4 linked regions of the Homo sapiens genome follow. The protein of the gene in region 1 interacts with the protein of each later gene in a biochemical or structural test. Each region holds a gene or a part of one and is shown in the gene's direction. Other genes may lie near its edges.

What was found.
Region 2: the proteins of PTPN12 (region 1) and BCAR1 form a complex in vitro, tested with the Homo sapiens proteins (3 studies listed by BioGRID and IntAct, with this or other methods).
Region 3: the proteins of PTPN12 (region 1) and NEDD9 form a complex in vitro, tested with the Homo sapiens proteins (one study listed by BioGRID).
Region 4: the proteins of PTPN12 (region 1) and EFS form a complex in vitro, tested with the Homo sapiens proteins (one study listed by BioGRID).

The regions. Positions count from the first base shown.
Region 1 is NC_000007.14:77,631,280-77,638,302, forward strand, and holds part of PTPN12 (tyrosine-protein phosphatase non-receptor type 12), read left to right. Parts: intron 1-1,068; coding exon 1,069-1,146; intron 1,147-4,486; exon of another isoform or gene 4,487-4,502; coding exon 4,503-4,570; intron 4,571-5,738; coding exon 5,739-5,769; intron 5,770-7,023. UniProt on the Homo sapiens protein: Dephosphorylates a range of proteins, and thereby regulates cellular signaling cascades. Dephosphorylates cellular tyrosine kinases, such as ERBB2 and PTK2B/PYK2, and thereby regulates signaling via ERBB2 and PTK2B/PYK2.
Region 2 is NC_000016.10:75,234,604-75,241,626, reverse strand, and holds part of BCAR1 (breast cancer anti-estrogen resistance protein 1), read left to right. Parts: intron 1-2,966; exon of another isoform or gene 2,967-3,533; coding exon of another isoform or gene 3,534-3,536; intron 3,537-4,282; coding exon 4,283-4,444; intron 4,445-4,628; coding exon 4,629-4,745; coding exon of another isoform or gene 4,746-4,799; intron 4,800-5,640; coding exon 5,641-6,738; intron 6,739-7,023. UniProt on the Homo sapiens protein: Docking protein which plays a central coordinating role for tyrosine kinase-based signaling related to cell adhesion. Implicated in induction of cell migration and cell branching. Involved in the BCAR3-mediated inhibition of TGFB signaling.
Region 3 is NC_000006.12:11,222,646-11,229,668, reverse strand, and holds part of NEDD9 (enhancer of filamentation 1), read left to right. Parts: intron 1-7,023. UniProt on the Homo sapiens protein: Scaffolding protein which plays a central coordinating role for tyrosine-kinase-based signaling related to cell adhesion. As a focal adhesion protein, plays a role in embryonic fibroblast migration.
Region 4 is NC_000014.9:23,362,168-23,369,946, reverse strand, and holds the start of EFS (embryonal Fyn-associated substrate), read left to right. Parts: upstream 1-4,774; 5' UTR 4,775-4,921; coding exon 4,922-4,939; intron 4,940-7,779. UniProt on the Homo sapiens protein: Docking protein which plays a central coordinating role for tyrosine-kinase-based signaling related to cell adhesion. May serve as an activator of SRC and a downstream effector. Interacts with the SH3 domain of FYN and with CRK, SRC, and YES.

The DNA.
Region 1 (7,023 bases):
GCTGTATTTTCTTGCGTCTCCAGCTAAATAAATGTAGGTGGGGCAAAAGCAATCATACTCACCTCATGCGTGTTGAAAATTGACAAGACCTATGCATAGCCATCAGGTGTGGTAAAATAGCAGAGTATCATGGCAGAACTGTGTGTTCATTTAAGAACAATGGGCAAGGCTCAAGACAAAATAATACAGGACCGTCGCATTTCTTTTTCTTTATCCCACCCTCCCCAACCTGAGAGTTCACACACAGGATTGTATTCTTATATTTTCTTTCTATTCCTCCAGTGAAAACTCAAAGATCAAATACACTCATTTACCTTAAGCCATAATAAAGCTAACCAATGAGGCTTACTTAATGCACTCTCTTTCCCAAGAGCTAATTTTGTTTTTACTAGTGAAAAACCTGTATATAGCTTCAGTCAGCATTCTCAAAGTACAGCCATGTGCCACTGTACACAAAATCTTTAGCAATAAATAAATGAAGATTTTTTAAAAAACTTTAATAGCTATATCTTTATCTGTTTTGGAAAAATAACTAGTATTTCCAATGTTATTTCAGTTATTGCTGTTTAAGACATGACTGAGGTACACAGTTAAGTTTAAAATGAGTCAGATTTTAAAAGTGAATAGGACACATGTTACATAGTATGGCAAAAATCATGAAAGGTGTTAAGCAATTGAATCCTGTTTGGGAAACACTGGCTTAGGCGTTTCATAACGCAAATGACCAAAGCTTTCCTTTTTGGACACAAAACATCATCAGTAAGCTCAGTAGAGAAGTCACTTGCCAGCTGACTTCTCTACTGAAGATTCCCTTCAGGCTTGGAGAACTGAATGATGTCTGTAGAGTGACAGGAAAGTCATGGGAGAGAGTCATTTCTGTATACATTATCTTTGCTCAATAAGCATCATAATTCTTGATAATGAGTGGAAAAGGTTTCTTGCATTTTTTTGCATTTTTAAAAACTGATCTAGATATTTGTGACAGGAATTTTTAGAATGTCAAGAAAGCTCTCTGATTTTGTTTAGATGACATGTTAATTTGTCTAAATTTTTATGTGTTTAATTTAGATGTTGATGTTAGTGAAGATTCACCTCCTCCCCTACCTGAAAGAACTCCTGAATCGTTTGTGTTAGCAAGTGAACATAGTGAGTGTCTCTTTTGCTTTTACATTTACTTCATATTCTAATAATAAACTCCGAAAAACATACCTGATTTTAATCTATTAGCTATTGTGCTACATAATTAAATTCAAAAACAAGTAAATTGATGTTGACATGCTTTTAATTCTTTGTTTGAAAAATGCTTTTAAATTATATTTTTTACTTGCTAAGATCGATAGAAATTACTGCATTTATGTTAGATATCAGAATTCAATTCATTTAAATGTAATTATAGGCTGGGCATGGTGGTTCAAGCCTGTGATCCTAGCACTTTGGGAGGCCTAGGCAGGTGGATCACCTGAGGTCAGGAGTTGGAGACCAGCCTGGCCAACATGGTGAAACTCCATCTCTACTAAAAATATAAAAATTAGCTGGGCATGGTGGTGGACACCTATAATCTCAGCTACTTGAGAGGCTGAGGCAGGAAAATGACTTGAACCCGGGAGTTGGAGGTTGCAGTGAGCCGAGATTGCGCCATTGCATTCCAGCCTGGGCGAAGAGCAAGATTTCGTCTCAAAAAGTAAATAAATAAATAAATGCAATTACAAAGCCAGGTGCAGTGGCTCATACCTGTAATCCCAGCACCTTGGGAGGCTGAGATGCACTGATCACCTGAGGTCAGGAGTTCAAGACCAGCGTGACCAACATGGAGAAACCCCGTCTCTACTAAAAATACAAAATTAGCCAGGCGTGGTGGCGCATGCCTGTAATCCCACCTACTTGGGAGACTGAGGCAGGAGAATTGCTTGAACCTGGGAGGTGGATATTGCAGTGAGCCGAGATCACACTATTGCACTCCAACCTGGGCAACAAGAGCGAAACTCCATCTTAAAAAAAAAATGCAATTATAAGTGTATTTGCAATCTGGTGTATTTTCATTCATTAAAAATAGCACTTATTGACTCATGCCTGTAATCCTGCCACTTTGGGAGACCAAGGCGGGCAGATCACGAGGTCAGGACATCAAGACCATCCTGGCTAACACACTGAAACCCTGTCTCTACTAGAAATACAAAAAATTAGCTGTGTGTGGTGGCATGCACCAGTAGTCCCAGCTGCTCGGGAGGCTGAGGCAGGAGAATCGCTTGAACCCCGGAGGCAGAGGTTGGAGTGAGCCGAGACCATGCCACTGCACTCCAGCCTGGGCAACAGAGCAAGACTCCATCTCAAAAAAAAAAAAAGTAGCACTTATTTATGAAAACATTAATTGCTTTCCTTAGATTTAGGTCAGTAAACATTTCTGTTGGGTGGGCGTCACTGGATTGGTGTTAACTGAAAGACATTTAACACCACTGGAGTAGACTGAGCACATTGGCTCATACCTGTAATCGCAGCACTTTGGGAGTCCAAGGCGCGAGGATTGCTTGAGCCTAAGAGTTTGAGACCAGCCTGGGCAACACAGTGATACCTCCTCTCTTCTAAAAATAAAATAACTGTCCAGTTGTGGTGGTGGGCGCCTGTAATCCCAGCTGCTTGGGAGGCTGAGGCAGGAGAATTGCTTGAACCCAGGATGCAGAGGTTGCAGCGAGCTGAGACCACGCCATTGCATTCCAGCCTGGGCAACAAGAGCAAAAAACTTTGTCTCAAAAAATAATAATAACAACAAAAAATTAGCCAGGTGTGGTGGCATGTGCCTGTAGTCCTTGCTACTCAGGAGGCTGAAGAAGAAGGATTGCTTGATCCCTGTAGTTGGAGGCTGCAGTGAGCCATGATCGCACCACTGTACTCCAGTTTGGTAACAGTGAGACCCCGTCTGTGGAAGAAAAAAAAAAGACCACTGGAGTATCAGAACTGGGAGAAAGTGATGATACTTTAAAACATTGATAATATACTTCTCCCTATTAATCCTCTAAAAAAGAGTGCAGAAACAGCTTGATTGTATTTACAGTGTCTCATGCTCAGTGGAGGTGCTCACTTGTCTAAGTACATTTTACCAATATATTAATTTTGACTGATTTTTGTTTTGTTTCATTTGGTTTTCTTTTTATTTATTTATTTTTTATTTATTCATTTTTTTGAGATGGAGTCTCATTCTGTCGCCCCGGCTGGAGTGCAGTGGCACGATCTCGGCTCACTGCAAGCTCCACCTCTTGGGTTCATGCCATTCTCCTGCCTCAGCCTCCCATGTAGCTGGGACTACAGGTGCCTGCCACCACACCCGGCTTATTTTTTTGTATTTTTTTTAGTAGAGACAGGGTTTCACCGTGTTAGCCAGGATGGTCCATCTCCTGACCTCATGATCCGCCCACCTCAGCCTCTCAAAGTGCTGGGATTACAGGCATGAGCCACCACGCCCGGCTAATTTTTTTGTATTTTTTTAGTAGAGACAGGGTTTCACCATGTTAGCCAGGATGGTCTCCATCTCCTGACCTCGTGATCGCCCGCCTCAGCCTCCCAAAGTGCTGGGATTACAGGCGGGAGCCACCACGCCCGGCCTTGTTTTGTTTTATTTCGAGTTGGAGTTCCACTCTGTCACTCAGGCTGGAGTGCAGTGGCACGATCTGGGCTCAAGCTGTTCTCCTGCCTCAGCCTCCTGAGTAGCTGCGATTAGAGGCATACACCGTCACTCCCAACTAATTTTTTTATTAGAGATAGGGTCTCACCATGTTGGCCAGGCTGGTCTTGAACTCCTGACCTCAAGTGATCTGCCTGCCTCAGCCTCCCAAAGTGAATTTTGACTGATTTTAAGATAAATGTTAAAGAGCCAAGCACAATGGCTTATGCCTGTGATCCCAGCACTTTGGGAGACCAAGGCAGGTGGATCTCTGTTCCATTTGCCCTAGGAGTTTGAGACCAGCCTGGGCAACATGGCAAAACCCTGTCTGTATAAAATCAAAAATTAGCCAGGCGAGGTGGCATGCACCTATAGTCCCAGCTACTCAAGAAGCTGAGATGGGAAGATTGCCTGAGCCTGGGAGGTTGAGGCTCCAGTGAGCCGAGATCGCGCCTGGTCAACAGAGTGAGACCCTGTCTCAACAACAATTAAAAAGAATGTTGAAAGCAATGAAACGGTATACTTCAGTTGTCTAAGTCTGTCACGTTGTCTGTAGATTAAGCAGTATACTTCACTTGTCTGTCACATTATCTATAGACTGTAATACACTGATGACTGAATTTATTTACTTAGGTTTTGAAGGAAGGAAACAGAATGTTCTCGAATTAATAGAAACTACAATTTTTTTTTTTTAGAAACTTCAGAAATATGCTTACCCAGAAACTACAAAATTTTTGTGGAAGCGATAGTTTCTAAAATCTTTAGGATCTGTTTTTTGTATTACTTTAATGCAAAGAAATTTCAGAAATTCAAGGTGTTAATAACAATAAGATTTCATTTTTCTCAGATACACCTGTAAGATCGGAATGGAGTGAACTTCAAAGTCAGGAACGATCTGAACAAAAAAAGTCTGAAGTAAGTCCTTTTGGAATTGGAACAGTTATAGCTTAACATTTCTACTCTTTTGTTAACTAATCTTGCAGTTGTTGAAATAGCTGTCATCTTAAGATCGTTAAATATAGTTTGTAATTTTTGATCGGCATTTCTTATACTAAGATTTCAGATGAAAAGCCCATATAAAAGGTAGGTTCTGAAATTTTTTAAAAGGGTAACCTGATCTACATACAACTATCACTTTAAAGTATTGTTTTCTCAAGCTGTTTTTGAAATATGTAAATTATGCTTCAAATAATTTTGAAGGTATGAATGAAATAGGAGTTACTATTTTCAGGGTCCTAATTCTTTCTTACATTTCTAGATGCTTCCCATTATAACACTAGGCACATAGTCGCTTCTTTTGTTTTTTTCTGGCTACCTGGCATTTCTTTGACATTCGAGAAATGTTTTGGCAATTAAATATTTTGAGGGCGTGGCATGGTGGCTCATGTCTGTAATCACAGCACTTTGGGAGGCCAAGCAGAAGGATCACTTGAGCCCAGGAGTTCAAGACCATCCTGGGCAACATGGGGAGACCTTATCTCTACAAAAATTTTTAAAATTAGCCAGGCGTGGTGGCGCATGTCTATGGTCCCAGCTTTTTGGGAGGCTGAGATGGGAGGATTGCTTGGGCCCCAGAGGTCAAGGCTGCAGTGAGCCATGATCACACCACTGCACTCCAGCCTGAGTGACAGAGTGAGACCCTGTCTCAGCAACAACACATTTGTCCATAGGAGATAACATTTTTTATTAACATTAATACTTTTTGTATTTTCTCCCATACTTTAATATCTCTGAAATTTAGCTACATCTTATATTTGATTTTAAGACATGATGTAGTTTAATTGACATATAAAATACAATAATGATATAATTAGTAATAGTGGCTGGCAAAACACAGCTGTATGTTCCTTCATGCAGTAGCCCATGCTTTTCAGTGCTCATCCAGAAACATTTACTCCAAGGAGAAATAGCATAACATTTTAAAATTTTAAGCCTAATTAAAAAACAATTGTTTGCTTTTCCTCTGATGCTGAAAATGATAGGCCTTGATTTCTTGGGATATATACCCATAACAGACCCAGCTTTCTATTATTTGTATATAAAATGAATGTATTGTAATAGGTATTAAATGTCTTCCTCGTAGGGCTTGATAACCTCTGAAAATGAGAAATGTGGTAAGTTGTTAGATTTTTTTTTTCCTTTTTACTGTAGATTTTATTGATTAATTTCTACAAAATAACATGCTTCATAGTTCATGCTATATAGTTATTTCTGTATGTGAAAATGTCTAGGACAACTCTTGTAGAAGCTTAATATTGTACTATAATTCTTCCAAATTAATTATTACCACCAGATAGTAGTATTGATCTGGAAAATCATGGGAGCATTTACTATCAATAATTACAGGCTAATGGGAAAGAGATTTTTTAAAAATATTTTTCTGTTTTTTATTTTCTGTTTTTAAAAACACCTAGAAGTTAGATCCCGACTTAAATAAATGATGGAATTGCTTCTGTAGAAACCTATTGTTTTAGAAATCTTCCTTTTAGTACTTTTTCATTTATTTGTGAAGACCAATAAAATTGTGAAAGAATGAATGAATTTTAGTAGTTAACATCTTTTGTTACTAATCTTAAACACTGGTAATTAAAGAGTAAACTACAATCTAAACAACATAAAACTTTAAAAGTGGAGTTATTAGGCCTGGCGTGGTGGCTCACACCTATAATCCCAGCACTTTGGGAGACCCAGGCAGGCAATCACCTGAGGTCAGGAGTTCGAAACCAGCCTTGAGCAACATGGTGAAACCCCGTCTCTACTAAAAATAAAAAAAATAGCTAGGCGTCATGCCATCTGCCTGTAATCCCAGCTACTAGGGAGACTGAGGCAGGAGAATCCCTTGAACCCCGGAGGCAGAGGTTGCAGTGCGCCGAGATTGCGCCATTGCACTCCAACCCGGGCAACAAGAGGGAAACTCCGTCTCAAAAAAAAAAAAAAAAAAACAAGTAGAGTTATTATTTCAAGGTGCAAATAGTGCATTAATTAACCCTGACCTTGTTGATTTCTTAAAATTTTTTTTTTTTTTTTTTTTTTTTTTTTTGAGACAGAGGTCTTGCTCTGTCGCCCAGGCTGGAGTGCAGTGGCGCGATCTCGGCTCACTGCAAGCTCCACCTCCTGGGTTCACAACATTCTCCTGCCTCAGCCTCCTGAGTAGCTGGGACTACAGGCGCCCGCCACCACGCCTGGCTAATTTTTTTGTATTTTTAGTAGAGACGGGGTTTCACCATGTTAGCCAGGATGATCTCGATATCCTGACCTCATGATCGGCTCGCCTCGGCCTCCCAAAGTGCTGGGATTACAGGCATGAGCCACCGCGCCTGGCCTGACCTTGTTGATTTCTATACAAAGACATTTCAGTTGCAACTATT
Region 2 (7,023 bases), on another chromosome or scaffold:
GGCCACCAAGCCTGGCCACCAGGGGAACCTGGGTCACTGGCTCCCACTTCCTGCTCTACCTGCTCCTTCAGCCATCTGGTCAGAGGCGAGCCTGGCTGGCGTGGGGTGCCTGGGTGGGGGTGCTCCCAAACTGGCTTTAGCAAGAGGAGCAGGGTCCTGTTATCCCCTGGGGAGGCGGCAGGGAGCAGTGTCCTGTAGGGGAGCCTCAGGCCACAGTCCAGGTATACCCACACCCCACACAGATGAACACACGTGCATGATGCCTGTACCCCACAGATACGAACACCCATGCACACACCATATGCACGAACACACACATGCGCTACATGAATGTGCGTGAATACATGCACATATCTGCATCCCATACCCCATAAATGGACACACGTATACGCCCACACATGCGCACATCATATGCATGAACACGCACACACCCAAACCCCATATGTGTAAACACACGTGCATACTCACCCCACACACAGACACGTGTACGTCCACACATACAAAGCGTGTGCACCCACCAGTATCCCACAAACGTACAAATGTATGTGCGTATGCACACGCACACACAGTCCACACTGCACATGCCCCAAGGTCAGGCACATCCCCACCCCTCCTCTCCCGCCTTTGCAGTGAAGCTTGTCCTGGTGCGGCTGGAAGCCCTGTGGGCTGGGGAGCAGCAGCGAGACCCCCAGACAGAGCCCGGCCTCGAGGCTGTGTTTTGGCAGCTGTTCTGTCTCCGTCTCCGGCAGGGGGCCTGCTCTCAATTGCATCAGGGGCTCAGCCAGCTGGGTCCTTCTCTGCCCATGCCCACTGGTAGAGCTGCCCAGACCTGTGCCCCAAGGGCCCTGACCTGGCTGATGGCCCAGGAAGGAGAGCCCTGTGTCCTGGGCCTGGCTGCTCTCCCCCAGGAAACCTCCCCCAGTCTTGATTGTGTCTGCTTGTATTTTATGATCACAAAAGCAATGCTTGTTTGCTGTAGAAAATGCATAATGTATGGGAAAGTCTGGAGATGAAATTTTCCAATCGCGGTAATCACTGGGAAATTCTGGCATATTTTGTCTAGTATCTGCCCTGTGTTTCACAGATTTATACATGCAGTTTTGCATTTCAAAGTTGTAAATCCAACATTAGATATCAAAAGCATTTTGTTGAATTCTTAAAGCTTGTCCCTGAGCCGCCTTGGACTTTGCTGGGTTGCCCCCTCTGCTGGGGCGGGCCCTGGGCAGTTTCCGATTGCTCATGCCTTCATTACGGTGGCACGGCGGTAACACCTGGCTGCGGGACATCTGTGTCTGAACCTCCAGGTGCTCCCCTCCAAGCCTCAGGCCTGCCCCTCAAATGCCTGGGAAACTGAGTCTCCCAGTTCCAGGGTAGTGGTTGGCTGGGCTGAGAAGGAGCCCTTGCCAGGACTTCACGTGGGCGGGAGGGACACTGGCTCTCAGGAAGCCAAGAGGGTGAGTGACAAGGATGGTGGCCAGGAGGGTCAGAACCCTGGGCCCTGGAGCAGGGTCCAGTGGTTGCTAAGGTGGGAGCCTGGTGGCCCGTATGGCTGAGGGAGAGGTGAGGGCCACACTGGCACCGAGACTCTTTGGGCCGGGTGTGGGCTGTAGGAATCTGAGGGCAGAGGCTCTTTCATGGTCAGATGGGACCCCCGGGGGAAGGCGTCTGTGGGAGGTCGCTCAGGTAGTGCCCCTGGTCAGTGTCTAAGGAGACAGCCATGGCGTGAGGTCAGGCGTGCACGTGGTCCTGTCGGGCCTGTGTTTCACCCTCCTCGCCCTAGAAGCTTCATCTTGCCCCAGGCTCCCCTGTGCTGGGACCTCAGGCTGGGGTGCCTGGAGCTGGGGAGGGAGGGGAGCGGGCTATGGTGGTGGCCCCTCAGGCCACCATGACCCAGGTCGGGTGAGCCCCTCATGCTGGGGTGTGTCCTGGTGGCCGTGGTCGCAGCGCTCCTGTGGTGCTCCATTTCCCAAGGAGGAAACGAGGCTCCTGGATTGGGACCTGGGGGTGCCAGAGCCGGGAGCCAACCCAGGTCAGGGGCGACACCCATTTTGCAGAAGGGGGAGACCAGCCACTGAGCTCCAGGGCGGGGGCCCACTTTGTCCCCTTCCTCCGACCTGACACCTGCCTCTGGGGCCCTTACCGGGAGGCTGGGATGTATTCCTGAGTTCGCTTGTCCCCCCGCTTGATGCCTGATAGTAGGGGAGGAGAGGGGCGGCACCCTGGCCCTGGGGCTGCCTGGGTTCTGTGCGTGCACCTGGCAGTGGGCCTGTGCTGTGTTTTCTCTGCATTGTATGAGGCATGTGTGTCAGAGACCGTGTGGGTCTTATGTCAGTGACTGTGCCTCTGTTCTCTCCTCCTGGGCTCTGGCTGTGTTCCCCTAACCCCCGGGGGACCTCCACGGCCTGCTAGTGGGGTCTCAGGTGTGCAGCAGGGTGGCCTGTGATTAGCAGTGGGGCTGAGTCATTCCCCTAAAGAGCTTTTCCCCCTGGTGGCTGCGTTGCTCTGTTTTTCTAACAGAAACATTTGGTCACTGTGGCTGCCTACTGCCACCCGACTCAGCTCCAAGAGTGGCAGGCGGCCATTTGCCTGGGGAGGCAGGCCTGGGTCCAGCTGCACCCCTGGGCCTCACCGCGTGAGGTTGGGATGGCCACCGGCAGGGTGCTTTTGGAGGATGCTCATCCCTCCTGCTGGTGCTGGGTCCTGGCTGAGCCTTGAGGCTGGGTCCCCACCTGCCTTTGGGAGGCTGGGAGGCCTGGAGAAGCCTCAGGCCGTGCCTCGAGGCCCAGCCAACCTGCCACGTCCCTCCGCCCCGCCTGCCCCGCTGTTGGCAGGTCCCTGCATCTAAAAATAGTTCTGGAGGAGACTCAAGTCTGGGGCGCGTGGAGGGAGATGAGTCTGGAGAGGCAGCCGCCAAATCCACTCCCAGACGCACTGGAAGGGGGCGGGGACACCCCACGGAGGCCCCCAGCCGGGACTCTGCTACCAGGCGTGCTGGAGACCTAGTGGGCCCAGTTCTGCTGCGCTGCGGGGGGCTCTGCCAGGCCTGCGGCTGCTGGGGGGTGCTGGCGCCTCTGCCACCCCCATGCTCAGCGCCCCCCTCACAGCACCCTCAGCAAGCAGGGCTGGCTGCCTGCCTGCATTGGGAGGGCCTCTAGGGGTTCAGGGGCACTGGGCCCGGGGGAGGGGCTGCTTTGGCGCTGCTGCCCTGGGGGATGTGCGGGGAGGCCCTGAGTCAACCCTGTCCCAGACATCCCCTTTGATGAAGGAACAAAAGGTCTTTCAGTGGAGAGAGCTGAACAGGGAGCCTGGTGGTGGAGGCGTGTGGGCGCAGTGTGCCCGGGGGCTGGAGAATCCCACCAGGGAGGCCTTGACCTCCCCAAGGCAGGGAGACCTTCAGGGAAGGAGGCTGCCTGGCATGGCCCCTACCCGCTTCAGGCTGGTGCTGGTGAGGGGTCCTGTGGCCCTGGGCAGGCCATTGTGCTGCCTGCCTCTTCACCCACTGTGCGGGCCTTGGCTTCCCTGGGCTCTGGGTCATGGTAAGAGCACCTGGGGAGGGGAGGGCTGGCCCTGGACCCACTTCCCCCACTAGGCCTCATCCTTTCAGGTCGCTGGGGATCTTACCTGCTGCAGGCAGCTCCCCCGGGGCAGGCGCGGCAGGGAGGGGGCCTTGGTCCCAGCTGCTGCGCCCCCCAGCACACACCCAACCTGCCCCTCTGGCCCTGTCCTCCAGAGTCTCCCCATGCTGTGCTGTGGGGCAGGGGGTGCTAGGCTCTATCTGGTCCTGGGCCGGATGCAGTCCCCTGCTGGGCCAACCCTTCTGAGGAGGCTACAGCTAGGTGGTGTGGGCAGCAGACTCCCAGGCCTCCGACGTGGCCTCTTGTCCTGTGGGGCTAGGCGCCCCAGTAACGGGGGGTTCCTTGCCTGTGGGTAGTGCCCTCCAGAGCCAGGGCCTCAGCCCCTCACCCCACCGGTGTCATCAGCTCATACCCATGCTCCTCTGTGGAGCCTTCTGGGTCAGCAGGCTGTAGAGACGTTGGTGTCCTGGCCCAGGACGAGGCAGCTCTGAATAAAACCCAGAGTTCTTGCCGTACCTGGCACTGCGTTCTGCTAGAGGAAGGTCAGATGGTGCAGAGGGGGTGAGAACTGGCATCCTTGGGGAGCCCCGTCCCTTCCACCTGGTGTGCCCTGCCCACCTCCTAAAAGGACGTGGCTCCCAGGTGTGAGTGGAGCCTCCCTAAGGGCTGGTTTGAGGGCAGCAGTGAAGTCGGCTCTCTGCCCCCAGGTGGTGGTGCCCACCCGCGTGGGGCAGGGCTATGTATACGAGGCCGCCCAGCCGGAGCAGGACGAGTACGACATCCCGCGACACCTGCTGGCCCCGGGGCCACAGGACATCTATGATGTGCCCCCGGTTCGGGGGCTGCTTCCCAGCCAGTATGGCCAGGAGGTAGGTGTGGGGTGCGCAGCGGTGGGAGGGCAGGGCGGCAAGTCTGTGCCTCTGCTTGGCCCTGGGCCGAGAGCTGCATCTTCTCAGCCCCGGCCAGGCCTGGGGACGGTGCTGCGGGGTTCCCACCTTTCCTATTCCCCCAAGTGGCCCTGGCGCCGTTAACCCTGCACTGTTTCTGCCCCAGGTGTATGACACACCCCCCATGGCTGTCAAGGGTCCCAATGGCCGAGACCCGTTGCTGGAGGTGTATGACGTGCCCCCCAGTGTGGAGAAGGGCCTGCCACCGTCCAACCACCACGCAGTGAGCAAATGCCAGGGCAATGCCAGGGCCAGGCTGAGGCTGTGGGGTGTCTGGGTGTGTGCACAGGGGTGCTGACCAGTGTCTGCAGGGCTGGGGGTGGCGGGCAGGAAGAGACTGGCTCCAGACCCTGGTTCTGGATGGTTGACAGATGAGGAAATCAAGCTGTCTTCTGAGCCTCAGGTTCTTTGTCGGCAGAACCGCCTGTTGCGAGGCCTTCTCCATGAGCTCCTGAGAGGGTATCCGCAAGGTGACCACGGGATGTGTCATCTCACCTGGGATACTTCCAAGAGTGAAGGGGGGACTAGTAATTATGTGGGGGCATCAGGGACAAACCAGCACTGTCCTGGGCAAACCAGAATTTGGTCCCCTGATAATACACACAGAGCTCAGTCGCACACCTGCTGCAGAGTAGAAAGTTCACACGTGGTGGTGGTGCTGGGTGGTAACAGTGATGGTGGTGATGAGGTGGCAGCGGCGGTGATGGTGATGAAATCATGATATGATGGTGGTGGCAGTGGCAGTATCACAGCTAACCTTTCAGTGAGTGTCTGCAGTGACACAATTATGTGAATTAACACATGCAATTCTTTGGGAGGAAGCTCTCCCACCTTCAGGCACAGGGGTGGTCACCTGGCTCCAGAGCCGGCTCGTCCCAGAGCTGTCATGGATAGGAATTGTGAAGGATGTGTGTGCTAGGGCTGCGAGTGTGTGTGCGCGTGTGTGTGCCTGTGTGCGTGCCTCTGCATTTGTATGTGTGCCTGTGTGTGTGCGCGTGCCTCTGTGTGTGTGTCTGTATGTGTGTACGTGTGTGTGTGTGTGTGGCTGGGTGCTGCCCCCAGTCCCTGGGGTGGGCAGATGGACAGATGGACAGTCTTGACCACCGCTTGTCCCCCAGGTCTACGACGTTCCTCCATCGGTGAGCAAGGATGTGCCCGATGGCCCACTGCTGCGTGAGGAGACCTACGATGTGCCCCCCGCCTTCGCCAAGGCCAAGCCCTTTGACCCGGCCCGCACCCCACTGGTACTGGCTGCGCCCCCTCCAGACTCCCCGCCGGCCGAGGACGTGTATGACGTGCCGCCCCCGGCTCCTGACCTCTACGACGTGCCCCCTGGCTTGCGGCGGCCTGGCCCGGGCACCCTGTACGATGTGCCCCGTGAACGGGTGCTTCCTCCTGAGGTGGCTGATGGTGGCGTGGTCGACAGTGGTGTGTATGCGGTGCCTCCCCCAGCTGAACGTGAAGCCCCGGCAGAGGGCAAGCGCCTGTCGGCCTCCAGCACCGGCAGCACACGCAGCAGCCAGTCTGCGTCCTCCTTGGAGGTGGCAGGGCCGGGCCGGGAACCCCTGGAGCTGGAAGTTGCTGTGGAGGCCCTGGCACGGCTGCAGCAGGGTGTGAGCGCCACCGTTGCCCACCTTCTGGACCTGGCAGGCAGCGCCGGTGCGACTGGGAGCTGGCGTAGCCCCTCTGAGCCACAGGAGCCGCTGGTGCAGGACCTGCAGGCTGCTGTGGCCGCTGTCCAGAGTGCCGTCCACGAGCTGTTGGAGTTTGCCCGCAGCGCGGTGGGCAATGCTGCCCACACATCTGACCGTGCCCTGCATGCCAAGCTTAGCCGGCAGCTGCAGAAGATGGAGGACGTGCACCAGACGCTGGTGGCACATGGTCAGGCCCTCGACGCTGGCCGGGGAGGCTCTGGAGCCACCCTTGAGGACCTGGACCGGCTGGTGGCCTGCTCGCGGGCTGTGCCCGAGGACGCCAAGCAGCTGGCCTCCTTCCTGCACGGCAATGCCTCACTGCTCTTCAGACGGACCAAGGCCACTGCCCCGGGGCCTGAGGGGGGTGGCACCCTGCACCCCAACCCCACTGACAAGACCAGCAGCATCCAGTCACGACCCCTGCCCTCACCCCCTAAGTTCACCTCCCAGGACTCGCCAGATGGGCAGTACGAGAACAGCGAGGGGGGCTGGATGGAGGACTATGACTACGTCCACCTACAGGTGGGTGCCGCCTGCCCAGCCCCGGCTCCTCTTCTGCCACGCTGGGCTCCTGTGCTTAGGGGGAGATTTGTTCTCAGCTGGGGCCTGGTCCCTGGCAAGGCCCTGCACCCTCCTCTCACTTTGACCTCCCTCACCCCACATTGGCCCCATGTGCTAGGGTGGCCATGTCATCGAGCCCTTCGTTGAGTCCCTCGGGCTGGTATCTCTGGTGACCAGCAGCGGTGACTCTGCTGTTCTGTGTGGGGAGACAGATCTGCAGAAATGTGCACACACACAAGGATGCTC
Region 3 (7,023 bases), on another chromosome or scaffold:
TAGTAAATTACGGGGGCTTCATTTATTAAGAATTTTCTACAAAATCCCCTTCATATACAGAGCATGTTCTTAATTGGGCGGGGGCTGGCGGGGTTAGGTGATTGCCTCGATGGCCTTGGTTTGCTTACCCAGTGAAGGCTCCCTCCTGAGGGTCTGGAGGTGTATGGTTGTGCTGTTTCCCAGGAGGGTGATGGAAGGGTCTCTGCGCAGCTGTGTTTGAGCAGAAGCCCCCGAGACCCCACCCCGTTTGTGCCTGCCAGGCCCGAGGCCCCGCCCACCTCAGGCCCAGCCCGGGCGGGGGCTCAGCGGCCCCTTGGCCTGGCTGCTAATGGCTGAGCAGAGACGCTTTTGTGGCTTTGCCAAATTTCTGAGCCCTTACGTGCCTACATTAAAATTCTAAATTATTTATCTCGTCTACCATGCAACAAATTCATTCTTTAACGTTTTGACTGAAGAAAAATTACAGACGGAACTTACAATGCCATTAAGAAAGGTGCATTCTGAAAGTCAGAGTCCTGTGTTCTGGTTGAATGGGGTAGGTCAGGGAAAGGAGAACCTGTGTGCCGTGAAACGCTTTGGAAAGGACTTTGAAAGTATTCGTATTTCCTCAAGCAAGACCGAGGAAAATAATGACAGAGGATCTTTAATTTAGTCAATATGGTCATGCATAAGCTATTAAATTCCCAATTATTTCCTTGCTTTGATATTTTGGTTTAAAATGCTTTATTTTTCTCTGTATGATTTTTGCAACCAATCCAAATGTAGGACTCCTGTCCTTTTCCTTTTTAAACCTTGTATGAGATCTATGGATTTAAAATCACTAAAACATGCTTTGAAAAATATCAACTTGGTTATTTATGTATTTATGCATTTATTTATTTATTTAGTAAACCCATTTGCAGAGCTAAATGGCTTACCTACACAGAGATAAAAGCCTTTAGAGTACTGAAGGTGCCTGATAATACCAAATTTAGCAAGTTGTACAGTGCGTAACATGCCAAGGATTCCTTTAGCATCCTTTCCTTGCTGGGATACACGTCAGTCCCTGTTCTCAGAATTCAGTGGTTCCCTGTCTCTCCCTTCACTCCAGTCTTCTGAAAAAAACACCTTCCTCTCCACTTTTCTTTTTTTCTTTTTTTGAGATCAAGTCTCACTCTGTCGCCCAGGCTGGAGTGCAGTGGTGCCACCTCAGCTCACTGCGACCTCTGCCTCCTGGGTTCAAGTGATTCTCCTGTCTCGGCCTCCTGAGTAGCTGGGATTACAGGTGCCCACCACCATGCCTGGATAAGTTTTGTATTTTTAGTAGAGATGGGTTTCACTGTGTTGGTCAGGCTGGTCTCGAACTCTTGACCTCAGGTGATCCACCTGCCTCAGCCTCCCAAAGTGCTGGGATTACAGGTGTGAGCCACCGCACCCGGCCTTTTTGCAAATTCTCTCCCACTTTCGTGCTTTTATGACCTCATTGGTTCTCCTTTTATCTTCTTCTTCTTCTTTTCAGGCTTTCCTTACGCTTCTTTAATACTGACTTCCGTAGATCTTACTTCCAACCCCCTACTCCCCAGCCCCCCACCCGCACCTATCTACTGCCGCCCCCTTGCCTCCCACACACAGATGTGACACTTTTAATGCACATTCTGTAGCCCTCATTTTTCCTTCTCCTTAGACTCTGCTATGGGAAATCTTGGTCCCTCACTGCCCCCATTCATCTGCCTCTCTGTTTGCGTTTACATGACTTGAGTGGCCTGTCAGTCCCGCTAGTAAAGTCTCCTCATCCATCCACTCTGTTTAAACAATCAAACTCTGAAACCTGTGTCTCCTGGACCATCCTATAATCCCTAAAATAGGCTGTTATGCTTTTCACCTCTGCCCTACTCTGTTAGCACTACCTTACTTATTGACCTCTTTCAATCAAATCGTTATCTAAAGGATACCTGTAACTCAGATAGGTTGCCTACTGGGCCTGTTTAGTTTTAAGTAAACCCCACTGAATATGAGAGACCCACCCTCTATTTGTATGTAGAGGCAGATTGATCGAAAAGTCCTTGAATAAAAAACATGATCTAGGGTCTGTGAAGTTTTGAGGGGGCCAAGACTTGGTGTTTTATGCTCTTGTGTTAGAGACATGATAGAGCATGGGCTTTGAAGAAAGGCATTTCTGTTCCTTATGGCTTATAGCTCTGGACCTTAGGCAAGTTAAGCTCTCTAAGCCTCATTTTACAGCATTGTCTGTAAAATAGGGATAAGAATAACTGCCTCATACTATTCGAAGACCTGGGATAATATATGAATGAAGTACTTACTATGGCTCTTGGCATATAGTAAGCAGACAATGCAAGCTGGCTCCAGCTCTCTTTGTATGGTAGATGCTCAATAGATGTTGAAAGGATGGTATGTACTCAAGACTTGGTGACAGAATTATGTCAAAATCCCAGTTACTAGGTTGAGATGGTTGAATATTGTTGAGTATTCTGTGGGCCTGGATGTGTATTGTAAGCATAGGGCCCTAACAGCATATGACCCCACTTGCTAATATACTAATGACTTGATTCCTTCATTATTGTTCATTGGACTCAGTATTCCTGAAATTACAAGACTTTGCTCATAGAAGACAAAATGTATACACAAATAGCCATTTAAGAGGATCTTAATACTATATGGCATAGTAAAAAAACAACAACAACAACAAAAAACATGGGCTTTGTTTCAGATCCCACTTTTGTTACTTTCTAACAGTATAGTTTTATGCTAGCTACTTTAAACCTTCTTTTCCTCATTTATCAAATGAGAATAATACCTGTCTTGTCAGATAGTTATAGGATATAATATATGACAATTGTCCTTTCTAGCAGATATTAGGCATTTAATAAATGGCAGCTATTATATGATGTTATATACACATACCCACAAAGATATACAGATATATAGATATGGAATTTTTATATAGATAAAAGTGTTTAAAGGAGACATTCACTAGAATTGTTTACCCATAACAGAAATATCAGTGAGGAAGAGAAAGTCGTCAATTCAAAAAACCAAAGATAAAATCCAAAGAATGTAAGTTGGGAGTACATGAGAAGTTCAGGGTGAACTCTCTTATCCAATTGCAGTCAATTAGAATGACATAAATGTAAAGTAAGAGGTCTTGGTTGTCTATGTTTAGATCATTTTAGGGTCAGAAAGAAATCTGAACAAATTGGTTTGAAATGCCAACCACTAGGACCAAGGCAATACTCTGCAAGAACATATAGGCTGAATTACCAGGACTTCTCGCCAAGACAAATGAAACAGGGCCATTGGGAAGAAATACTATATTTCTAACTTAAAATGCCAGAGAGTAACTGACGGTTTCCTAGGTGATAGATGGTTGCAAAGAGTACGGGCATGAAAAGGGGACACACACACACAAAAAAAAACCCTGTTTATACTTTGCCAACAACACCCCCCTCCATCTTATTTACTTTGAACATTCCAGCCATCTCTCTGCAGTAATTCCTGCTGGCTAATGAGGATTCCACACAGCTAGGGAACATGACAGCCTGCAAAGGATTATTTTCCTGAACAATCTGCATTTTAAGATAAGTCACCTTGTTGGTAACCTTTTGTACCCTTCATTGGAAAGGGTGACTCTCTTTGAAGACAGTTTGACCAAACAATGAGATCTAGGTGAATTTGAGGAAGATAGAACGGGCACTCCAGAAATATGGATAGTGGTGGAGCTGACAGCAGTTTTTCATGGTTGACGTAGGGAGTGGAGGCAGCTGTCATGGAGATATTAAAGTTGCCAGTGGAATGTTTTCCAATACATATTCCTGGGCCCCACAATGGACTATTAAATCCCAGTTATTCTTTAAAAAAAAAAAAAAAAAAAGGCCGGGCGCGGTGGCTCACACCTGTAATCCCAGCACTTTGGGAGGCCGAGGCAGGCGGATCACGAGGTCAGGAGATCCAGACCATCATGGCTAACACGGTGAAACCCCGTCTCTACTAAAAATACAAAAAATTAGCTGGGCATGGTGGTGGTCACCTGTAATCCCAGCTACTTGGGAGGCTAAGGCAGGAGAATGGCTTGAACCCGGGAGGCGGAGCTTGCAGTGAGCCGAGATTGCACCACTGCACTCCAGCCTGGGCGACAGAGTGAGACTGTCTCAAAAACAAAACAAACAAACAAATAAACAAACAAACAAAACAGCTAGTCTCTTTCTCCCTAATCCCCTCACTAACCACTACTAGTGCTTCTGGTGCTTACACGGTGTCTAAGTAGGTAGTTCATGATCCTTATTCAAAGGCTGGATCCAGTGATTTGTAAGTGTCATGTTTCTTTGCAAATCTCAGTCTTGCGAATTAGAATTCCCCCTGATATGTCTAACATATCAAGGTAATAGTTATATGATGTTACTAAAAATGTCCCTCACATGAAATGTTATGTTTATGCCCACAGGAAACAAAGATTTAGCAACAAATATGTAAAAGTGAAACCATTTCAAGCAACAAAAATATTTGATAGCCCTTTTGAAATTAATTTGAATTCCTTTTTTTACTGTGTGTATGTGTGGTTGGGGGGCAGGGGGGCGGTGGATGGATTAATTATCTGTGAAACCCAGTAGAAAGTTGCAGTAACCAAAACACGTGTAAAGTTCAGATTTGAACCAGATCTCCTGTCTACTTCTTAAGGCATTGTGCATTTAGATAGTATATGTCATTCATGTTTTTCCTAGGTTTTATTGGTCAGGCAGAAACACTGTGCTATCTCTTGGTAACTATGAGTTAGCCTTAATCTCAGTGATTCATGACAGTCCACTTGTTTTCCTTAATTTAATGCCTCACTCCCACAGGAGATGAGGCTAACTGAGGACTCATCTAGAGGACTCTTTAAGAATGAGCTGGGCTTTTCTGCCCCCCAACACCCTCCGCCTCCCAAAATAACCATAACAGGCAAAGCCAGCACACAGAAAATGGCAGTAAGTGGACTTCTAGACACTCCAGCTACTTCTGAGTCTTCAGTGTCAGGACACATCAGTCATCTGTCGATGAGATTTTTTTTTTCTTTTCCTTTTGTTCTTTCGTTCTTGTTACTAGTCACTGTGGCATGACTGAGAGTTTGGCAGGAAATGGGTTCGTGGACCTGTGGTACAGTCGCACTACCACAGCAGCATTGGCCTAGCAAAATGTTGAGCCCTCTTTCCCTTGCATGCTCCCCTGGGGCAGAAGTCCAGTGCTATCTCCGCTTCCCTGACCCTCTCCACTCAGAGCCCAGCATGACAAGCACACCTTTAAATGGGTTCAAGGAAGGGAATAGCAGAAATGAACGCAGCCCGACAGCCTCCTTTCTCTTGATAACCCCTGTCACTGTGGAGCTGGACTTCTAGGCTATCTCACAGAGGCCCAGAGGCACTGGAATCGATCTCATTTCCTTACAGACATCACCTTGTCAATTAGAGAACACATAACGTTGATTGAATTTAAGATTCTTATCAGTGCCTAGCTCTTTTTCTCCCAAATCCGAAATTCAGCCATGGCAGATCCATAATCAAGAAATATACTTACATTCCCATCCTTTGTTGTTGGTTTCAAAAATATTTCTTTTTTGTGAGTATGTATCCATGTTTTACAAACCAAAAAAATGGGACATATGGTCTGACAAAGGGAAGGATATTTGAACCTGGGGACTGCCTGGGAGAGTCCGGAAGCACATGGTCACTCTAGAGACTGTCATCAAGGGCTGCTCCTGAGATTAATCCACTGTCGAAGGCATTATCCCATCTCCCTTACAGCAGCCTTTTGCAGGAAACTGTCTAAGATGTTGTGCTTTTTTTTTCATTGACTTGTAAATAACAAGGTGCTCTCTTTCCTTTTCTTTGCAGAAATAGGCATCTTTAGAAATAAAGCCATGCCCATTTTGAAATAAGAACTTGTTTGGAACACCTGAGAGTGTTAAGCAGTGCGGGGGATTTGCATCCAATTGTTCTTGCTTTAAACCTGGCATGGGCGCTCTCGCCTCATAGCCCGCAGCACCTGAATCAAGCCTCCTGCCTCCCTTATTAAGATCTTAATTACAGACTCAGCTTAGTTCATTGCTGAAGGGAAAGAATTTCATTTCTCTGAAGTGTGTCTGTTTTTTGGTGTGGCAGGTGTAATCATGATAAGATCATTTCTGGGTTTTTTGTTTTGTTGGTTTTTTTTTCCTAGAGGAAGTTTTTTTTTCCAAGGGGAGGAGTACAGTTCTTAAGACACAATTTCATGAGCTCATCTTGGCGCAGTAATAATAACTGTGCTTTGATTTTATAGAGACTCTTTTTCCTGAAGAAATCAGAGCATTTGGAGTAAATAATCTCATGATTCCTCATATTTTTATAAAGAAGAACATGTCTATTAATATTTATTTTGCAGACAGGGAAACAGAGGCACAAAAGGCAGAGATTTGATGGTCATTAGTCTTCAAATGTGAAGTCTGAAGCTAGACCCTCCTAATTCAGTCTGGTGTCCATTCCTCTATCCAGGGTTTCTCAACCTTGGCACTATTGACACTTAGGGCCAGGTCATTCTTTGTGGTGGGGGCTGTCCTGTACACTGTAGGATGTTTAGCAACATCCCTGGCCACTCTACCCACTAGATGCCAGTAACACACGTGTGCATGCATGTGCACATGCACACACACACACAGTGACAACCAAAAAATGCCACTAAACATTGCCCGTACCCAGAGGGGACAAAAATCCTCCTAGTTGAGAAGCAGTGGTCTAATCTCTTCTACTCCTTCTCCTTAAAAATAACTGCCCTACTCAAAAATACCCCCATAGAACTGACTGCCATAATTTTATCATTACTGATATTGAGCTTAATGTAACAGGTCCTAACCAAAAAGCAACTTCCTCTTACAGGCCTAGCCCCAGTTTGTTTCAGTGAATACCACAAAATACTAAGAAGCGCAGAGTTTCATTCAAGTCAAATGTAAAACCCATCAAACCATCTCTAAGGCAACTTTAAAGTATTTCTCTGGCTTCTCTCTCTACAATATGTACCTCA
Region 4 (7,779 bases), on another chromosome or scaffold:
TTGGGTGGGCGGGGATTGGGGGGAACATTGACCTGGATGGTCACAAAGGTGCCAACCAGCTTAGCTGCTCCAGACCTCAGCTCCTGAAATAGTGCTGAATCCACAGGACTCAGCAGGGTCTACTGAAGCTCATCGGCACTCACTGTACATGAAGCTAAGGCACCGAACATCAAAATGTTGAAATACTTCTGCTCCTGCTGGTAAGTAGATGCTTCCTTCAGCCTTGGGACACCACCTTACCATACTTCCCTATGATCCAGCAACTAAAGGTTGAACACCTGGCACAGATGGAGGCCCCCAGAACAGTGCTACCACTTTCTGATTGGTAGATGATAATGGTTTAGCTACAAAAACGCCTAGGCTCAGGAGCAGCCTTCAAGGAGAACCCAGTCTAGACCCTGGGAGACACATGGAGAATCAGAGTTAGCAGAACCAAGAACCCAACAAACCCATGTCTTTAGTCCAGGGCTGTAGCCTTCCCCAGGAGGCCCCTCAGCTTACTCGGCTTTGTCCTATAGTCATGGCTGCCTTCGTTCACTTATCCACTCACCAAATATTTACTGTGCACCTACTGTGTTCCAAGCACTATTCTAACAGCTAGAAATGCAGGGGAGGACAAGCCAGACAAGGTCCCTGCCTCATGAAGCTTACGTTTTAGGGGGAGACAGATTATAAACAAGGAAACAAGATAATTTCTGATAATAATAAGTGCTATGAAGAAAATGAAACAGCATTATGAGATAGGGAGTTACTGGGGGTGGGGGAGAGGAAGGCAGGGCAACTTTAAGTTGGAAAGCCAGGAAAGGCCTTTCTGAGGATGCAGGATTTCACCTGATGACAGAAAGGGTCTGGGGGAAGTAGTTTAGGCAGAGGGGGCAGGACATGCAGAGTCCTAGAGGTGGAAAAGAGCATGGCATATTTGAGAAACAGAAAGGACAGTGTAGATGTTGAACAAGAGATAAGGAGGAGAGGGAGACAAGATGAGGTGAAAGAGGTGGGCAGGGAGGAGATCACATAGGGTCCTCCAGGCTACCATGGAGCATTTGGATTTTATTCCAGAGTCAGCCGGAAGATATTGACTGGATTCAAGCATGAGCTACATGATATGTTTCTTGAGGGCAGGCACCATGTCCTTGACATTCTAGTGCCACCACAAGGCCATCACCAAATAACAATAATAGTAGTTGCCTTTGTCCAAAATTTACACCTCATGGGCCTGATACTGTTCTTGGGATTCCCTTAATCCTCATAACAAGTAAATGCTAAAAGTTCAATTAACATTCCCACTCTACAGACAAGGAACCAGAGGCTCCAGGAAGTCACAGAACTTGGCCAAGGTAACTAGCCAGTGTTAGAACCAGGATTAGAACCCAGGCAATCTAGGTGCTATGGGTCCAAAGAGAGGAGAACTGAAGAATTGGTGAGCACCCAAGAAGTTTTGGGTAGCAGGAGAAACAAGGAGAGGTCCAGGAAGTCTTGGGGTCAGGTGAGGAAAAAACCAGCTCATTGGACCTGCAGGGAAGGGGAAAGAATGGGAGAAAAGACTGGGACCCGGGAAGCCAAATGGAGGGGTTCCTTCCCTTCTTCTCCCTGAATATGGCAAGGGCAAACCTTGAAGACCCACTGCTTGAGGCTGCCACCCACCCAGGGTCTCAGCTACCTGCCAAGCCTGGGTTTTCTCCAACCTCACCTGCCCTCAACAACGAACACATTCAGCTTTCTGGAAAGCACAAGTCAGAGGGGAAGCCAAGGTAAAGAGGAAAAGCCATGGAAGAAGAGCACTGTGCCTGGCAATCTACATAAGCTTACTCCTCACCAAAGTCACTGCCACAGAGGAGGACCTGAGACTCGGATGCCCTATAACTGGACAAAGGTCACACAGCTAGTTAAGCAGGATTCACTTGTGACTCTGACTGGCTCCATTCCACACCTGGATATTCCAGAAGCAGCCTTATTTCCCACTGGTCTGTCCTCTGCTGTCCCTCTTCTACCCTTCCCCGGGCAGGGAAACTGCCTGCCCATCTCCCAAGCCAACCCTTGCCTGGTCCTAGCAGTTTCCTTCCTCCTTAGCCTTTTCTGGCCTCCATCTATTTCCCCTCGTGCCAGTCAAAGCATTCATCTTTGAAGACAGGGTTTCCTGCCCACCTCCACCTTGGACCCCAATTTGCCTTGGCAGTCTCCTGGGCAGAGATCACACCAAGTCACTCGCCAGCAGCTGGATATCCGTGTGCCTGGCAGCCAGGTCCCCCAGGGCTGGGGTCTGGAAGAGGTTGGAAAATCTTCCCTAGTGGCCACCTCTAACCTAACTGGAGCTGGGAAGCAGGAGCTCTCCCTGGAAATTTAAAAGTTCCTCTACCATCCCAGTGGAGTTGGAATCTATTCAGGAGTCTTCCATCATGGAGAGCCAGCCTAGAGCCAACACAGTTTATCCCCATCCCCATGTTTATCCCAGAATCTCTCCCTATTCCACCCCATAGGCTCCACCACACCCTTCCAGCAGAGGTTTCTTCACAGGTGCCCAGGTAATACAGTGGGGAAGGAGCTGGGGCAGGTGTCCTGACCACACTCTCCTAGGAAATGCCTAGATGTGTGGGCCTGTGGAATATTGAGGCAAGGTTATCTGTCCAGGGCCTCAAGTTCACCAAGGGCCTTATATTACATTTCTGATCTTGTCTCCAAATAAGGTTATGCACAGAGTCATTCTCTATTGTATGTGTTTGAAGCGTTAATTTGTTCAATGTAAACATCCAAAATATACCACAGCTTTCAATCCTGTTTGTCATCTTGCTTTTTAAATACCAGGAACCTCAAAAATGGAAGAAGGCAGGCTTCACTCAAGCCTGAGAGGCCCTGATGTGTGTGTCCCAGAGGGAAGGTCCAGGGAAGCAGCACACACTAAGGAGTTATCCCAGGGCAGAGGAGCTGTAGGGGGCTAGGAGCACCATCCTTTCAGTGGAAACTCCTGGTGGGGCTAGATCCCATCTCCTCTGGAAGAGTTCTAGCAACTTTTGTGCCAGCGGTCCTGCCCAATCCTCTCCTCATAGCAGCAAGAGTGAGCCAGGCTGAGGAGGCCGACAGGCCCAGACTGGCAGAGGAGTGTAAGAGGCCGCACAACCTGCCCGCCTGCAGTTCTGGGGCCAGACGCCCTGCTTCATGTTGTCACTAGGGCCAGAATCCATGTCCAGCGCCAGACTCCCCTCCTGTGCCCCGCAAGAACGGCCCAGCGAACCCTGTGTAGGGGAGGCGCCGAGGATTGGAGAGGCTCTGCTAAGGGCCCCGCTGGGCGGAAGGCGCGCGCTCCCTCCCATGGGAAAGACAGATGTGGGGCTAATGAAAGGGAGGCCGAGAGGCGCGGGGACGGCCGGGGAGACGGGGGCGTGGCGGGGAGAGGAAAGCTCCCGGAGAAAGCCGATCGGACCACCGCAAGCGAGGCATGCAGCGGAGTCCGGAGGAGGAAGGCGCCGGGGACTGGGGCAGGGCCAGGGCGGGACGGGGGTGGGGGGTGTGGGGGGTACCACAGGCAGTTGGACCCGAGGGTCCTGAGCTGAAACTCAACACCCGCCTTTGGAAGGATCGTCCCTCTTTCTCCTCCGCCCCTTCCCTTCCCCTCCCCTTTCCCCTCCCTCCTTTCTCTTAATCCCCAGGACGGAGCCCTGCGCGGGAGAGGAGAGGGCCTGAGGGGAGGAGAAAGGAACAGCACTGAGAGGGGCCAGGAGCCCAGGAAGGGGAGGGAAGGGCAGCCGCGGGCCAGGGGTGAGCCTGCGGGCCACGCGCGACCCCCGGAGCCTTCGCAGCCCTCTCAGTGTCCCCACTCCCAGCCCAGGCGAGTCCACAGGACCCGGGCCCCTGCTCCTCCCTCGCCTTCTCTTTGCTCCTTCTTTTGCTTTGTGGCCTTTCTTTCCCTTCCCAGAGACACCTGGGAGCTGCCCCCAAGCTTTGGGGCGCCCCGCGGGGCCCTGCCAAGGGTGCGTGTGAGAGAGGGCGGCGGAGCCGGCGCCGGGTGCCAGGGGCCGAGGGTGGGAGCGGGAGCTCGTGGCCCTGCGCCCTGGAGCCGAGGACTGGAAGGGGGCTGGGCCCCTCCGCCGCCTGGGCGCAGGCCGCGCGTCGGGAAGGCAGTCCCGCCTGTTCCAGGGGTGCCTGCGTGCTGGTTGCTGCTGCCCGGGGCGAGGCGCCGTAGCGGCGACCTCAGACCCCCGGGCGCGCTGAGTGAGTGCGCGCGTGAAAACCGCCGCACCGCCGGGGGTGCGAGTGTCTGGGCCGAAGCGGCCACTCCAGCGACCCAGCCCCACGGCCACGCTCTCGGGGGCCTTTGGCTCCAGGCAACTTGGGGCAAGCGTCTCAGTTCTCGCTCTCCCTTCCTCCCAGCGGGGTCGCCGCAGACCCCAGCCCTGGGAGCACCGCTCTGCAGCGCGGCCGGCGGGTGGAGACGGTTGGCCCCTAAACTCGCTCGTCCAGCCCAACCGCCCCGGCGGCTTCTCCCAGCCCTCGAGGCTCTCCTGAGCGGCCTGGAGAGGCGTCGAGCGCAGCCCAGCGCCCGCCTGCTCACCCGCCCCGGCCCGGGAAGGGAATTTTCGGATCCTGCGAGCCCGGGGCGCCCCCGCGGCCTAGGGCGGGCAGCTCCCGGGGCCTGGCCGAGCCGGTGGCGCCCGGGAGGCCGCGGGGACAGCACGCAGCGCGCGCCCTTGGATGCCGTCCCGCAGCGACGCCCCGGCCCGCCCCGCTCCTCCTCCTGCCTGGCTAGCCTGCCTCTCATTTGGGAAGTTTTGTGGGTTTTCTTTCTCCTCCTCCAACCTTGGCGGAGGCCACGACTCAGGCGCCACAGCTGGGGGCTAGAGGCCGCGGACCATGGTGCGGGGCAGCCACCGCTGAAGTCAGCAAAACCGAGCCTGGCCTGAGGCAGGCTGCGCGGGAGGCCAAAGCCATGGCCATTGCCACGTCGGTGAGTCCACCAGGGAGTGGAGGCTGCCGGGGAGAGACCTCCACGGCCTGCCCTGCGCTCCTGTCACTTTATTTCTGCCCTCTCTTTGTCTCTCTCCTTGGTCCCTTTCTTCTCCAGGAGGCTGTGTCCCCCTCCTCTCACTTTTGTTTCCCTTCTCCCTCTCACTCCTCATCCCCTGCTCCTCCTGGCTCCGGGCTCGCCCCTCTTCCCCGCCCCCTCCCCATTCTCCTTTTTCTTCCTAGAGGCTGCGCCTGAATGGAGGGGAAGGGGCAAGCGTAGCCCGAGTCCTATCTGCTCCTTTTGGGCGGGAACAGATGGCCACTGGTGGTTGGCAGAGGCTTGTGGTTGGGAGGCAAGTAAAAGGTTTGGAGGGGGCTGAAAGGACCTAGTGGCTCACGGAAAACGGAAAACGAGAGGCTGAACGACCCCAGGAGGCCCATCTCGAGACGAGGGATAAGGAAAAAAGGGAGATAGAGCAAAGGAGGGAGATCAAGAAAGAGAAGACAGAGGGAGGAGGGGAGGTGATGTCAGCCAGAGCCTCAGGCCACTTTCCAGGGATCGGGACAAAGGGAGGAGACAGCTGGCATGATGGGACAGTGGGAGGAGGCCTCCCAGAGAGCACAGAGGCTCTCTGCCACCTACATTAGGCTGGCCATTCCCTCACCAGTCAGCTGGGCTGCTGGGGGATAGAGCAGGAGTGGTCACACCCATCATCAATCAGTCCATCAACAACTCTGTCCTGCAATGGCAGGGCCCAGAGGCTTGGCTCCATTGGACAGAACTCAGTCCTAACACCGGGAGGAGCGCTCTACAGCCCCACCTCTGCTTTCTGTTCTACAGTCTATGCAGTCTGAATCCAGGCAGCTTTGTTCCCTTTCCACCCTCTTCTAGGTCCTGCCTAAGATTCCCAGGGAAGCGAGGCCGTCACCTGCTTTCTGTTCCCTTCTCAGTGGGGACTCTCGGAGAGAGACTGGAAAGAGAAGCACAGAGCCACCCAATGTCCTCCCATACCCTTTGAGGACAGGTTCAAGTTTGGTTCTTTCTCAGACCAAACTCCATTTTTTTTTTTTTTTTGAGACAAGGTCTCACCCTGTCACCCAGGCTGGAGTGCAGTGGCACAATCACGGCTCAATGCAGCCTCGACCTCCTGGGCTCAGGTGATCCACCTACCTCAGCCTCTTGAGTAGCTGGGACTACAAGCACGCACCACCACATCAGCTTTTTGTATTTTTTGTAGAGGCAGGGTTTCGCCATGTTGCCCAGGCTGGTCTCAAACTCCTGGGCTCAAACAATCCATCCGCCTCAGCCTCCCAAAGTGCTGAGATTACAGGCATGAGCCACCGCACCTGGCCCCAAATTCCTTTTAGTTCCTCAATCTGTAACGATGGCCAGGAAACCCTAGCTCAGAGTGGGGAAGGAGGCCCTCTGGAGATAGAGTACCTCTGGGAGTACTCTGGCATAGAGATACTGGTTCAGAAGCCAGCTGGTCAGCTTTGTAGTCCCAAGAATGTAGATTTTTCTTTTTGGGGTCAGGGGCATTTATGCTAATCAAACTCACAGGATTCTAATAACAGCTATTATTTATTGAGCATTTACTGCACCTGGCCCTGTGCTGCGCTTTGTCATAGTTTCTTTATGCGTTATCTCATGCAACTCTCACAACTACCCTGTGAAGGTAGTATTGTTATTATCTGAAAATGGATATGCGCATATGGAATTCTACAGAGAAGGAAATTGAGACTCAGAAAGGTTAAACAATCTGCCCAAAGGAACCTGGCTAGAAAGGGACAGACCTGGCTGGGCGCAGTGGCTCACACCTGTAATCCCAGCACTTTGGGAGGCAGAGGCGGGCGGATCATGAGGTCAGGAGATCAAAACCATCCTGGCTAACACAGTGAAACCCCGCCTCTACTAAAAATACAAAAAATTAGCCGGGCGTGGTGGTGGGCGCCTGTAGTCCCAGCTACTCGGGAGGCTGAGGCAGGAGAATGGCGTGAACCCGGGAGGCGGAGCTTGCAGTGAGCCGAGATCGCACCACTGCACTCCAGCCTGGGCGACAGAGCAAAACTCCGTCTCAAAAAAAAAAAAAAGAAAGAAAGAAAAAGAAAGGGACAGACCTCCAAGCAGTGGGTCGCAACGGTAATCCCAGGTATTTAGGAGGCTGAACCCAGGCATTCGAGGTTACAGTGAGTTATGATTGTGCCACTGCACTCCAGTCTGGACCACAGATCAAGAGCTGATCTCTAAAGAAATATTTTAAATAAAATTTTAAAAGAAAGAGACACAGCCAAGACTCAAGCCCAGGTCTGCCTCTAGAACTGTGCTTTTAATCCCCTGGCTAGATCCAAAAGACTGATTTATAATTTACAACTAAAAAGAAAAGTGCAGCACTAACCGGGAATTTGTGTCATCTGGTTAGCACGTTTCTTTGTGTGGGACAATATCCTTTAGAAACCAAAATATAATCAGAAAATGGTTTGATGAGTTGGGAATCAGGCAAGAAGAGGGGTCAATTTGTTGTTAAAATCACCCAGCCATGAGAGGCCGGATAACCTCACCACCAGAGGGAAACATCAGCTAAGAGGAATATGCACTCCTGCTGACTCTAGCAGGGCATCCTTCTCCCCAGGGTCTGGTGGCAGCCTGCCTGAGATCTTTAACTTTGAGATTTTTTTGCTGAATTAGTCAGTCCGTTTGGCTACCTGGCTAGTAATGCCTAACTAGCTGCTCTCCAACACTACATGTAAGTCACCACTGCCTGGGATCCTACCAGCAAGCATCATCATTTAGCAATCAAAACTGAAGCTGAATGTAATTGTATGTTTTGAGTGGTTTTAGCT